Linked DNA regions of Homo sapiens: region 2 is linked to region 1. Evidence: fine-mapped expression QTL. Tissue or cell type: testis. Region 1 holds a variant in brackets; the other region holds the start of a gene. All regions are shown on one strand. Distances are from middle to middle.

The links.
Region 2: ADRA2B starts here. The variant in region 1 is fine-mapped to the expression of ADRA2B in testis (GTEx, PIP above 0.99). The same link has a PIP of 0.9 or more in hippocampus.

Annotation. Positions count from the first base shown.
Region 1 is chr2:96,079,470-96,084,838 of GRCh38, forward strand. No RefSeq gene overlaps it. Among named protein-coding and RNA genes, the nearest start is that of ADRA2B, 34 kb to the right of the region's middle. The variant A/G (reference allele first, on the strand shown) is at 2,837.
Region 2 is chr2:96,113,694-96,119,062 of GRCh38, forward strand. ADRA2B (adrenoceptor alpha 2B) reads right to left here and starts at 2,878. Exons shown (of 1, transcript NM_000682.7): 1 at 1-2,878. The coding sequence starts at 2,456. The coding sequence ends at 1,104. RefSeq lists silencers at 2,778-2,867, 2,968-3,127, 3,138-3,597, 3,638-3,707.

The sequences.
Region 1 (5,369 bases):
AGGTGTGTTTCATGGCCTAAAATGTGGTATCTTGGTGAATGTTCCATGTGAGCTTGAGAAGAATGTGTAATTTTCTGTTGTTGGATGAAGTAGTCTATAGATGTCCATTTTATCCAGTTGATTGCTGGTGTTGTTGAGTTCAACTGTGTTCTTACTGATTTTCTGCTTGTTCCGTCTGCCGATTTCTGATCAACGAGTGTTGAAGTCTTCAGCTTTAGTAGTGGATTCATCTGTTTCTCCTTGCAGTTCTGTCAATTTTTCCCTTACATATTTCTATGCTCTGTTGTTAGGTGCATACACACATTCAGGATTGTTATGTCTTCTTGGAGAACTGACTCCTTTTTCTTATGTAATGCCCCTCTTTATCTCTGGTAACTTTCCTTGCTCTTTAAGTCTGCTCTGCCTGAATTAATACAGATATTCTGGGGGGTGTTTTAGTTAAATATTTGTATGGTGTATCTTTCTCCATCACTTTAATTTTAATCTAGATGCATCTTTATATTTAGAATGGGTTTCTTGTAGACTACATATAGCTGGGTCTGGTTTTTTTAATCTACTCTGATAATCTCTTTTATTTTATTTTTCTTTCCACCTTTTATATTAGGTTCAACGGGTACATGTGAAGGTTTATTATTACATGGGTAAATTCATGTCATGGGAGTTTGGTGTACAGGACATTTTGTCACCCAGGTAATAAGCAGATTACCCAATAGGTAGTTTTTCAATCTTCACCCTCCTCCCAGCCTCCACCCTTAAGTAGCCCCCGGATGTCTGTTGTTCCCTTCTATGTGTCTGTGTATACTCAGTGTTTAGCTCCCATTGATAAGTGAGAACATGCAGTATTTGGTTTTCTGTTTCTGTGTTAATTCACTTAAGATGATGGCCTCCAGCTCTATCCATGTTGCTGCAAAGGACATTGATTACATTCTTTTATATGGCTCTGTGGTATTCCATAGTGTATATATAGTCTATCATTGATGGGCATCTAGGTTGATTCCATGTCTTTGCTATTGTGAATAGTGCTGCGATGAACATATGCCTGCATGTGTCTTTACAGTAGAATGGTTTACATAACCTTGGGTATACACCCAGGAATGGAATTGCTGGGTTGAATGGTAGTTCTGTTTTAAGTTCTTTGATAAATCTCCAGACTACTTTCCACAGTGGCTGAACTAATTTATGTTCTGACCAGCAGTGTATAAGCATTCTCTTTCCTCCACAACCTCTCCAGCATCTGTTATTTTTTGACTTTTTAATAATAGCCATTCTGAGTGGTATGAGATGGTATCTCATTGTGGTTTTGATTTGATTATCGATATTGAGTATTTTTTCTATGCTTGTTGCCAGTGCAGATGTCTTTTGAGAAGTGTCTGTTCATCGCTTCTCGGCCTTTTGGCTAAGATCAAGTGAGAAGTGTCTGTTCATGTTCTTTGCCCATTTTTTAATGGGGTTGTTTGTTTTTTGCTTGTGGGTTTAAGTTCCATATAGATTCAAGACATTAGATTTTTGTTAGATGCATAGGCTGTAAACATTTTCTTTCATTCTATGGGTTGTCTGTTTACCCTGTTGATAGTTTCTTTTGCTTTGCAGAATCTCTGTCTTAGTATATTTACACCATTGGCATTCAAAATTATTATTGACATAGATTAATATCTACCATACCCGTTACTGTTTTTCTATTTGTTGCCTTGTTATTTGTTCCTCTATTTTTCCTCCCACTCTTTTTCTGCCTTTTGTGGTTTTTAATTGAGCATTTTATATGACCAAAAAATAAATAGTCAGCATATTTCTGCTATGGTCTGAATATGTTCCCCCAAAATTCATATGTTGAAATGTAACCACCAATATGATAAGAAATGAGGCCCTTAGGAGGTGATTAAGTCATGAGGGTGGAGCCCTCAATAATGGATTAGTGCTTTAACAAAATAGGTGAGAGGGGGCTATTCATCTTTTCCACCACGCAAGGACACAGCAGGAAGGTACCACCTTGGAAGCAGAGAGTGAGCCCTTATCAGACACCAAATCTGCTCTTCCCTTGATCTTAGACTTCCCAGCCTCCAGAACTATGAAAAATAAATTTGTATTATTTATAAATTATGCAGTCTGAGGTATTTTGTTATAGCAGCCCAAGCGCACTAAGACAACTTCCTTTTTAAAAAAAATACTTTTCTTCTTATTTTTTTCACTTGTTTCAGTATTTTCCCTAGATTTGCAGTATACGTCTACAACTAATGCAAATCCATCTTCAAATACCAAATACTACTTCATGGGTTGTACCAAGTATCTTATAATAACAAAATAATCCCAATTCCTGCCTCCTGCCTCTTATGTCTGCTCTCATTTATTTTACTCATACATAAGCATACTTAAGTATATGTTTCTATGTGTATAATATACATATACGATTAAATAATTGAATATATTGTTGCTATTATTATTTTGAACAAACTGTTACCTGTTAGATCAATTCAGAATAAAAAAAAAACACTTTCTATTTTATCCTCCCTCATTCCTTCTTCAGTGCTCTCTTTCTTTATATAGATCCAAGTTTCTGACTTACATGTTTTTCTTTTTCTTTGAAGAACTTTCAATATTTCTTACAAGGCACGTGTACTGACAATAAATTTCCTCAATTTTCGTTTGTCTGAGAAAGTCTGTATTTCTTCTTCACAGAGAGTTGTGGATGGAGCCCCTGCATCGCAGGATGAGAGGCCAGACCAGAGCAAGGCAGAGGATGCCATGTTCCTTCTCACCAACACGTGCTCCTCTCAAGCTGCCAACGGGGCGGCTGCACAACCAGAGTTCCAAATTACAAGCATGTTTTCTGGGAGGGGCC[A/G]CAAGGTAGACAACCCCCCACCTCCGGCAGCTGCCCAGGCCCTAAGCCCTGGAGTCCTGGCTCGGGCTATTACTGACCATCCCTGTGATCCTGGGCAAGAGGTCTATCTGCAGGGGAGGAGGTGCTGAACTAACACACTTGTGCGTAACTCAGGTGGCCCAGGTGGGCCTGCATCTCCAGGCCTTTCCAGGCAAAAGGTAAGAGTATTGGCTTGTGCGGCTCCCGTGACCCACACAAGGTCGTACCTTGGTGCCTTGCCATGAGCAGGCAGTCCTGCGAGTGCCACACTTCTTCCAAGGCCTGAGGTTTGGACAGCCTGGGTGCTCACTCTTTGCTGATCACTTCACAAAGCTATCAGATCCATCCCGCCTTGGTAATAGCTCTTCTCTCAAGGATGTCCTTCCAGCCTGCAAAATGCAAGGCTCCAAGCCTGTGTCCTGGCCAGGCCGGGGTCCAGTCTTGGACTCATACTTACCCCAGCCCACGGCTAGTCTGCAAGGGGACAAAATGGAGAGAGGGCCAAGACACCTGCCTGTCCCCCAGGACCTCTTTGCTTGGCCAGCTGAGGTCATCAGGTCATCGATTGGAAGGCCAGCTCTCCTCTCCACCTCCCATTCTGGCAGCACTTCACAGTTTACAAAGGAAGCTTCTCCACTCCCAAGAGTGTAACTGACCTCATAACTTCCTTAGAGAGGAGGGAAGCTGCTTGCCCAAGACCACACCACTTATAAGGAACAGGCAGGGACAGGGACTCACATCTCCTGTCTCTCCGAGCCCAGTGTAGCTTACACAGCTGCCCTCCCTCCCACCCCACTCATGGGCAGCTCTCAGGCTGCCTTAGGTGGCCAGGAAGCCCACCTGCCTCTTCCCCTAGTCCTGGGAGGGCCACCACATCCTGGGGTCAACATCCAATGAATTTGGCAGGCACTGTGCAGTGTCACTTTAATTAGGAGGCTGATGAGATGGAGGCTGCCATAGCTTTAGCAGTGGACTTTTCCTTAGTCCTGCAGACCCTCCCTACTCCAGCTCAGCCCAAGGCAGAGCCTGCTCGGTCAGCCACTGGCCTCCAGCCTGGCAGTGTCAGGAGGAGGGGAAGTCAGGCCTGGCGCCGGGGCTGGCCAGCCAGGGGCCAAGGACTGCAGAGCTGCTCACGTCCGCACATATCTAAGCATCCACATCCCATGACCTGCTTCCAAGGGCCAAGGCCCCCACCCCTCCACTGGGGACAGCTGCCTTCTGTGCTCAGCCAGAGGTGGCCCAAAAATTCTGGCTGGCCTAGCCTCGTGCCCCAACCTCAGCAGAGAGGCATGCAGAAGGCCACGTCTGCCAAGCCCTCCCAGGCCCTGCCCTACCCCAGGAGTGCATAGTCAGAGGCCATGCACATTCAAATCCTGACCCCTGGACACTGCTGCCCCATCTGGGCTCCTGCCACCCCCAATCCCTGCAAGACCCTAGGGAGAGAGGCTCACCCTCCCTCTCTAGCCTCAGAGCCATTCCCCACTTCCTCCCTCTTCCTTCCTTAGTGCCTGAGTTAGGCGCATGCCTGTCACCACCCACACTGACCTCCAGGCCCCATGAGGGGCCACTAACATAATTTATGTTCATTTTCTCTTCATCTCTCTTCCCATGGATGTCCTTGAATACACGTGCATCCTCAAAACTGTCTAGTAGCCAAAACCGGGGATAATGGATGAGCACGAGTTCTAACCCAGCAGTCACAAAGGCCTCCAGAAGGGCCTCGCTCCCAGGAGCCATAGGATTTGGGGCTCATGGCCATCATATCTAGATTCCAGGAGAGGAAGCTGCCCTGATACCCAGGGATGCTGCAGCAGGTGCAGGCGCTGTTGGGATATTGCTCACCAAGTCCCAGCCACGGGGTAAGGGAGAAATGCCCTCTGCCCCCGGGTTGTCTGCGCTGTTTCTGAGTCCAGCTCTGGCTTGACCGCATGAATCACACATCACGTCCCTGACCGGGTACCCTGTAGCCACCCTCAAGCAGCCATCTCTCCTGAAAGTGCAGGACACCCCCTGGGTTCCACCCCATCATCCCGCCCTTGCTTCTTGCTTGTGAGAGTTCTCACCGTGTGTGTGTGTCTGCCTTTGTCCTGTGCTGTGGGTTTTGTAGACCACCCTGGATGCCCTCTGGCTGGGTTTGATAGATCCTCTCAGCAAGCCTCATGCTTTGCACTGTCACAGTGGCGCCCTTTCCACCAGCCTGAATATGCCAGGGGGCGTCTACCATGTCTGAACAAACAAATGAACAAATGAACAGACCACGGTGTGAGCCTGAGAAGTGGTAGGGGCAGCCTCTGGCCAGCAGGCCCCTCCAGGCGGTCGTGGAGAGTGGGCACCTCCTCCAGGCCCAGGGCCTCCCTCCCTGGCAGCCGGGGCCACCTGCACTGCTTTGGCTAATCCGGCAAACCCTAAGGGAGGCCCAGAGGTGGAGCAGCGACCACAGCAGCCTGCCCTGAGGACCCCGCTCTGGTTTGCCGCTGCCTGCAACCAGCCAGGGGCTGCTGGGCTGGAGGAGGCA
Region 2 (5,369 bases), 34 kb after region 1:
TTGGTGTTGCCGGTGAAATGTCGAAACGTTGTCATGTAGCGTAATAACTCAGACCTTTGCAGCCAGAAGAACACATTCTCAAAGAGATCCTTTAACTTGAAATAGTGATTCTGTCTGCCACTCCCGGCTTCCAGTTCGGGGTAGGAATTCACACACCCCAGGGACAGAACAAAAGTCTACAGGAAGACAGGTGGTGGTAAACACAGAGGAAAGGGATTTTTATATCACCATATAATCACATTTTTGGTTCTCTAGTGTGTTCCCCCACAGAGCTCAAAGCTTTCTGCAAAGCCTTTCATCTCCCTGCAGCAAGTAGGCAGTGAGCTATTGTCGCCCCGATTTTTGCAGGGGGTGAATGCCAGTGATCGGGGATCTCCCGTCGAGGCAGAGACCAGGCCTCCAAGACCGCCCCAGCGAGGCATCCACGTGGCCACCCACCTACCGGAGGGGTGCTGGGTAAGGAAGCCGATCCATTGTTCTGGCTTTCAAAGGAACCACAGATCCGAAAACAGGCAAAGGGGGAAAGGAGGGCCCAGAGACGATGCCACCCCATAAGCCCCCATCCCAGCGCCTGCCAGGGACCGCGAGTGCCTAGCGTGGGTGATCAGTCTTCGTTTCTTCCTCCCCCTCAGCAGCAGGCCCCACTGGGAAAAGTGGAAGGCTGGCTCCGTGCTCTTTGTGGGTGGGGGGGAGATGAAAAAGAAACGAAAACACCACAAGCAAGTGACCTGCCAGGAACACAAGGTCCTCAAGAAAGGGAAGCCCAGACATTGGTCTGGAGAGCATGGGGCTCTGGGAAGAAAGTGCTCTCTCTTCTCCTGGTCTTGGCTATGTTCCAGAGGATTTGAACCACCTCCATCGGCCTGTGCTCAGGGAGAGGGTGGAGAAGGGGTCCCCCACAGCTAAGCCGGCAAGGGGAAGCTTCACTGGGACCCTTGCTAGCAGCCCCCCTGCCCACCCCTCCCAAGGGGTTCCTAAGATGAGGCCTACAGGATCTGGGCAGGGAGCAGAAAGCCCAGGGGAGGCAGCCACACACAGCAGGGCAAGAAGCAGGGTGACCCCGGCGCCACCGCACCAACCCCACAGGGGCAGCGCAGGCGGGCTCACCAGGCCGTCTGGGTCCACGGGCGGCACAGGATCCTCCGGAAGGCACGGCGGAAGTCCTGGTTGAAGATGGTGTAGATAACAGGGTTCAGTGAGCTGTTGCAGTAGCCGATCCAGAAGAAGAACTGGAAGAGGCCATGGGGCACCTTGCAGTGCTTCGGGCAGATGGCTCCCAGGCTGTAGCTGAAGAAGAAGGGGAACCAGCAGAGCACAAAAACGCCAATGACCACAGCCAGCACGAAGGTGAAGCGCTTCTCCCGGGTCAGCTGCGCCCGTCGACGCCACCACTGCCCACCTATAGCACCCACGCCCCTGCCCAGGAGCACCTGGCCACGTAGGGTGGCCAGCACCCGGGAGCCCTGTGGCTGCTGCAGCGGGGGGCTGCAAGCTGAGGCCGGAGACACTGGCACTGCCTGGGGTTCACACTCTTCCTCCTCCTCCTCCTCCTCTTCCTCCTCTTCAGCTTCATCCTCTGGAGATGCCCCACAAACACCCTCCTTCTGGCCCTGGCCTGAGTTGGGAAGGGCAGCCCAACTGGGTGGCAAGGCCCGGGTCCCAGTATCTTCAGGGGTCTCCCCCTCCTCCTTCTCCCCAGTGGACTTCGAGTGTCCGTTGACCTCTCTGGCAGAAGCCACAGAGGCCAGGGCTGGCAGTTTGGCTGAGGCCAAAGCCCCACCATGGTCGGGTCGGGGCTGCTTGGACTCACCCTGCCCAGGCCCCCCCTTGGCCCTGGGACCTCTGCGGTTGCTGCGTTTGGCGATCAGGTAGATGCGCAGGTAGACAAGGATCATGATGAGGCAAGGAGCAAAGAAAGATCCGATGCTGGAGGCCAGGATGTACCAGGCCTCCTGGTTGAGCTTGCACTGGGGGCGCCCGCGCGGCTGGGGGCCCTGGTCGCCCTTGTAGATGAGGGGCGGCAGCGAGATGACGGCGGCGATGAGCCACACAGTGAGGATGATGCACTTGATGCGGCGCGGGGTGCGCTTGGAGTTGTACTCCAGCGCGCGGCTCACGGCCCAGTAGCGGTCCAGGCTGATGGCGCACAGGTGCACGATGGACGAGGTGCAGAAGAGCACGTCGAGCGCCAGGTACACCTCGCACCACGTGCGCCGGAAGTACCAGTAGCCCAGCAGCTCGTTGGCCAGCGAGAAAGGGATGATGAGCGTGGCCACCAGGATGTCGGCGGCGGCCAGCGACACCAGGAACAGGTTCTGAGGGGCGCGCAGCGAGCGGCTGGTCAACACAGCCAGGATGACCAGAGCGTTGCCGAAGATGGTAAAGAGAATGAGGAAGGTGATGGCCGCCGCTATGGCCGCTGTGGCCTGCACGGAGTAGGGGTCCTGGTGGTCCATGACGGGGCGGGAGGTGGGCAGAGGGAGCGCTGCCCGCCCAGTGCGCACCGTGGACGACAGCGCTGCCCGGCTCGGCTAGACAAGAGCGTCGCCCCTCGGGCGGCGCCGAGGGCGCTGGAGCCCCATGGCCTGGACGAGCGGGGCCTAGGAGGTCGGGAACACCCAGGACCAGCAGCCGCCCTCCTACATCCTCCTCCACCGGTGCCCGGGGTCCCTGCCGTCCGCCCCAGAGAAGTTTCCCAAGTTGTCCCGCCGCCGTCCCCGTCCCGCCCGGGACCGGAGAAAGTCGCGCCCTCCCGCCACGCGGATGCCGTACGCTCTGGGGGCGCGGGCCGGGCTGGGCCGGTTCTTAAAGGAGGCGCGGAGGACCTTGCGCCCGCTCAGCTCGCAGGCTTTCGCCCCAGCCGCGCCTGCAGGGGAGTGGGGAGCGGGGAGAGCGGCTGGAGGAAGGCGGAGACTGGAGGCGGGCGCGGGAGCGGGCGGGAGGCGGGGCGGTGGGCGGACCGAGGTGGGCTGAAGGTGCGCTTCGCGGGAGGCGTGAGCCCGGGACTTCCCGCGCCCGGACCCCGCCCAGCGCCTCTACCTGCCTTCCTCCCGGCGGCCGCGCCTCGGGAGAGCGGAGGGGCCCGGCGGCCGGGGTCTCCGGCCCCCAGGCAGGACGCGCGCAGCTGTGGAGGGGTCGGTGGGTGCCGGGAGCCGGGACGCGGAGCTAGCGCGCGGGCCGGCACCGGGACGGGACACTTCTCCCGGGGGAACCGGGCTGGGCCCGGCGCCGGTGCGCCCTGCTCTGCCTTCCGCCGCTCGGGAGCCCGCAGGGAGGGCAGGGCGGGCGTGGGGCTGGGGCGCCGGGTCGCAATACACCACAACCCCGCCCGGCTCGGCCGTGGAGACGCCCTGCGGAGAGGTGGGGGAGCGGGGAGCGGGGAGCCGGTCCCGACCCTTTCCCAGGCGCTGCCCCTCGCGGACCAGCTCCGTCGGGCCAGCGCCGCGCGAGGAGGGCGCGTCCCGGCCTGCGAGCGCCCCCTGCTGCCGCCCGCGGGCCCAGCCCGTCAGCGGCAGCCCGGGTCCCGGAGCCAGCGCTCGCAGCCTGGGTCTTAGGACTTCGGCTTCTTGTGTCTCCGCAGCTGCCTCAGTTTCCTCCATTAAGGGCAAAGGAGGTAACAGGGAAACTGGCTTGGACTCGAATCACAGCATCAACTGCGATTCAGCCAAGGGTTTGTACGGGGCACAGGGCGAGCTGCCGCCCCTTGACTAATGCGAAGGGGAGGTCCCTTCCTTGCCGTGGGGGAGTAAAGGGTGGGGACTTTGTCACACAGCTCCGAGAAAAAGCAGGTCTCAGGGGCAGCCGTGAAGAGAGGAGCGTCCCTCCGCTTCTGTAGTGACCCCGGGGGAAGGGGTTGACCCTCCCTCCCTGCTGCGGTCCTGCCCCACATACACACTGAAGCCCTTCTGGGGGTGACAGTGGAAAGAGGGTTGGGGTAAAAAGAAACTTCAGACTAAGGCCCCCCACTCGCCTTCAAAGCGCTATGAGCAACTGTTCTCCCTCAGGGCCCCAACTCACTCTCCCTGCCACACCGCCACCAGCACCAGCCTGGGCAGCCCTGAGGGCATGTTTCCCCGGTTCTGGAGCCCCTAATGTCATAAGCCCCGCCTCGAGCCAGGCCTCTTATTCACAGCCCACGACTCTGCAAGGCATCCTCTGTATAAATAAGCACCAATCCACCTCTGACAGTGGGGCTCCCCCAGGCCCCGTCCAACCTGCTGGACCTCCTCTCCTCCCTGCTCCCTCCATGGGAGCAGAGCACGTGGCCTCTCAGTGCCCACGGACAATGTCTAGCGCCTCCCCAGGCTCAGGTGGGAGGTGCCCCGTCTCAGGTACCCAGACCAGCACCCCCAGCCACGGGGGTGTGTTGGGAGTAGGTGCCTCCTTGATCCCCCCATCCCTGTCATTCTGCCAGACTCCCCAGCTTCTGGTGAGGTGCAAGTGCCCACAGCCCATGGGGTGGATGCTGCCAGGGCTGGGTTCGGACAGGGCAATCAGCCTCCTTCCCACCCCCAACCCTAGGCTTCAGCTCAAAACCGACCACTCTGCTAGACACAGTTTCCTGGATGTGTCTTTCCCACCCTCTGGGCTGGGCAGGGCCTGGGCGCCGCCTGGGCATACATAACCAGTGATGGAGAGATGCCAGTAGCTCTTTCCCTGAGGAAGGACAGAGGGTGGCCATGAGAGCCTGGGAGCAGCTACTTAGGCAGGTGCCTGCCTATCCAGGGGCTCCCAAGGCCTTCACAGTCTGGGCCTGCTAGAGGCCCACATGGGCATCGGGAGGAACCGCCTTTCCACTGTCTCCAACCACACTTGGGCTGGGGGCCAGTGAGCAGCTCCCCAGACTCTGCAGCCAGCATCAGCCTTTGTCTTCTGACCCATCTTCCTTCAAGGGATGCTGCAGGAGCTGAGACTGGGTTGCCCGTGTGCCCTCCCCACCCTGCAAGTCCCCACTGAGGACGCTTACCTGGGCCTTCCTAGAAGTGACAACTTTGGGTCTACTGAGTGCCAAGCCTTGCTAGGCATCTTTCATTGGGCCAGCTAGGCACTAGGCCAGGTGGGGACAGCCAGGGACAGAGTCTACAGCTGGCAGACCTGGGAGATGTGTGCCCTCCGGGCAGCAGGAGCTGCCTTGGCATCCATACCGCTGCCCCAGGCTGTCACCGTCTACTGCAGCTGTCTCCTCCTGGCTCCACCCCAGGATGGACAAGTGCAGCGTGGGTGCGCCAGCTCTCCACGGCCACGCAGGCCATAACATAACTCAGCTCCTGCTCCTCTCGGCGGCTCACCATCTCCCCCCGCACACACACACCTTCAGGCCTTGCCTGCTCCAACCAGCCCCATGAGGCTGCCAGGTGCAGGAATTGGAG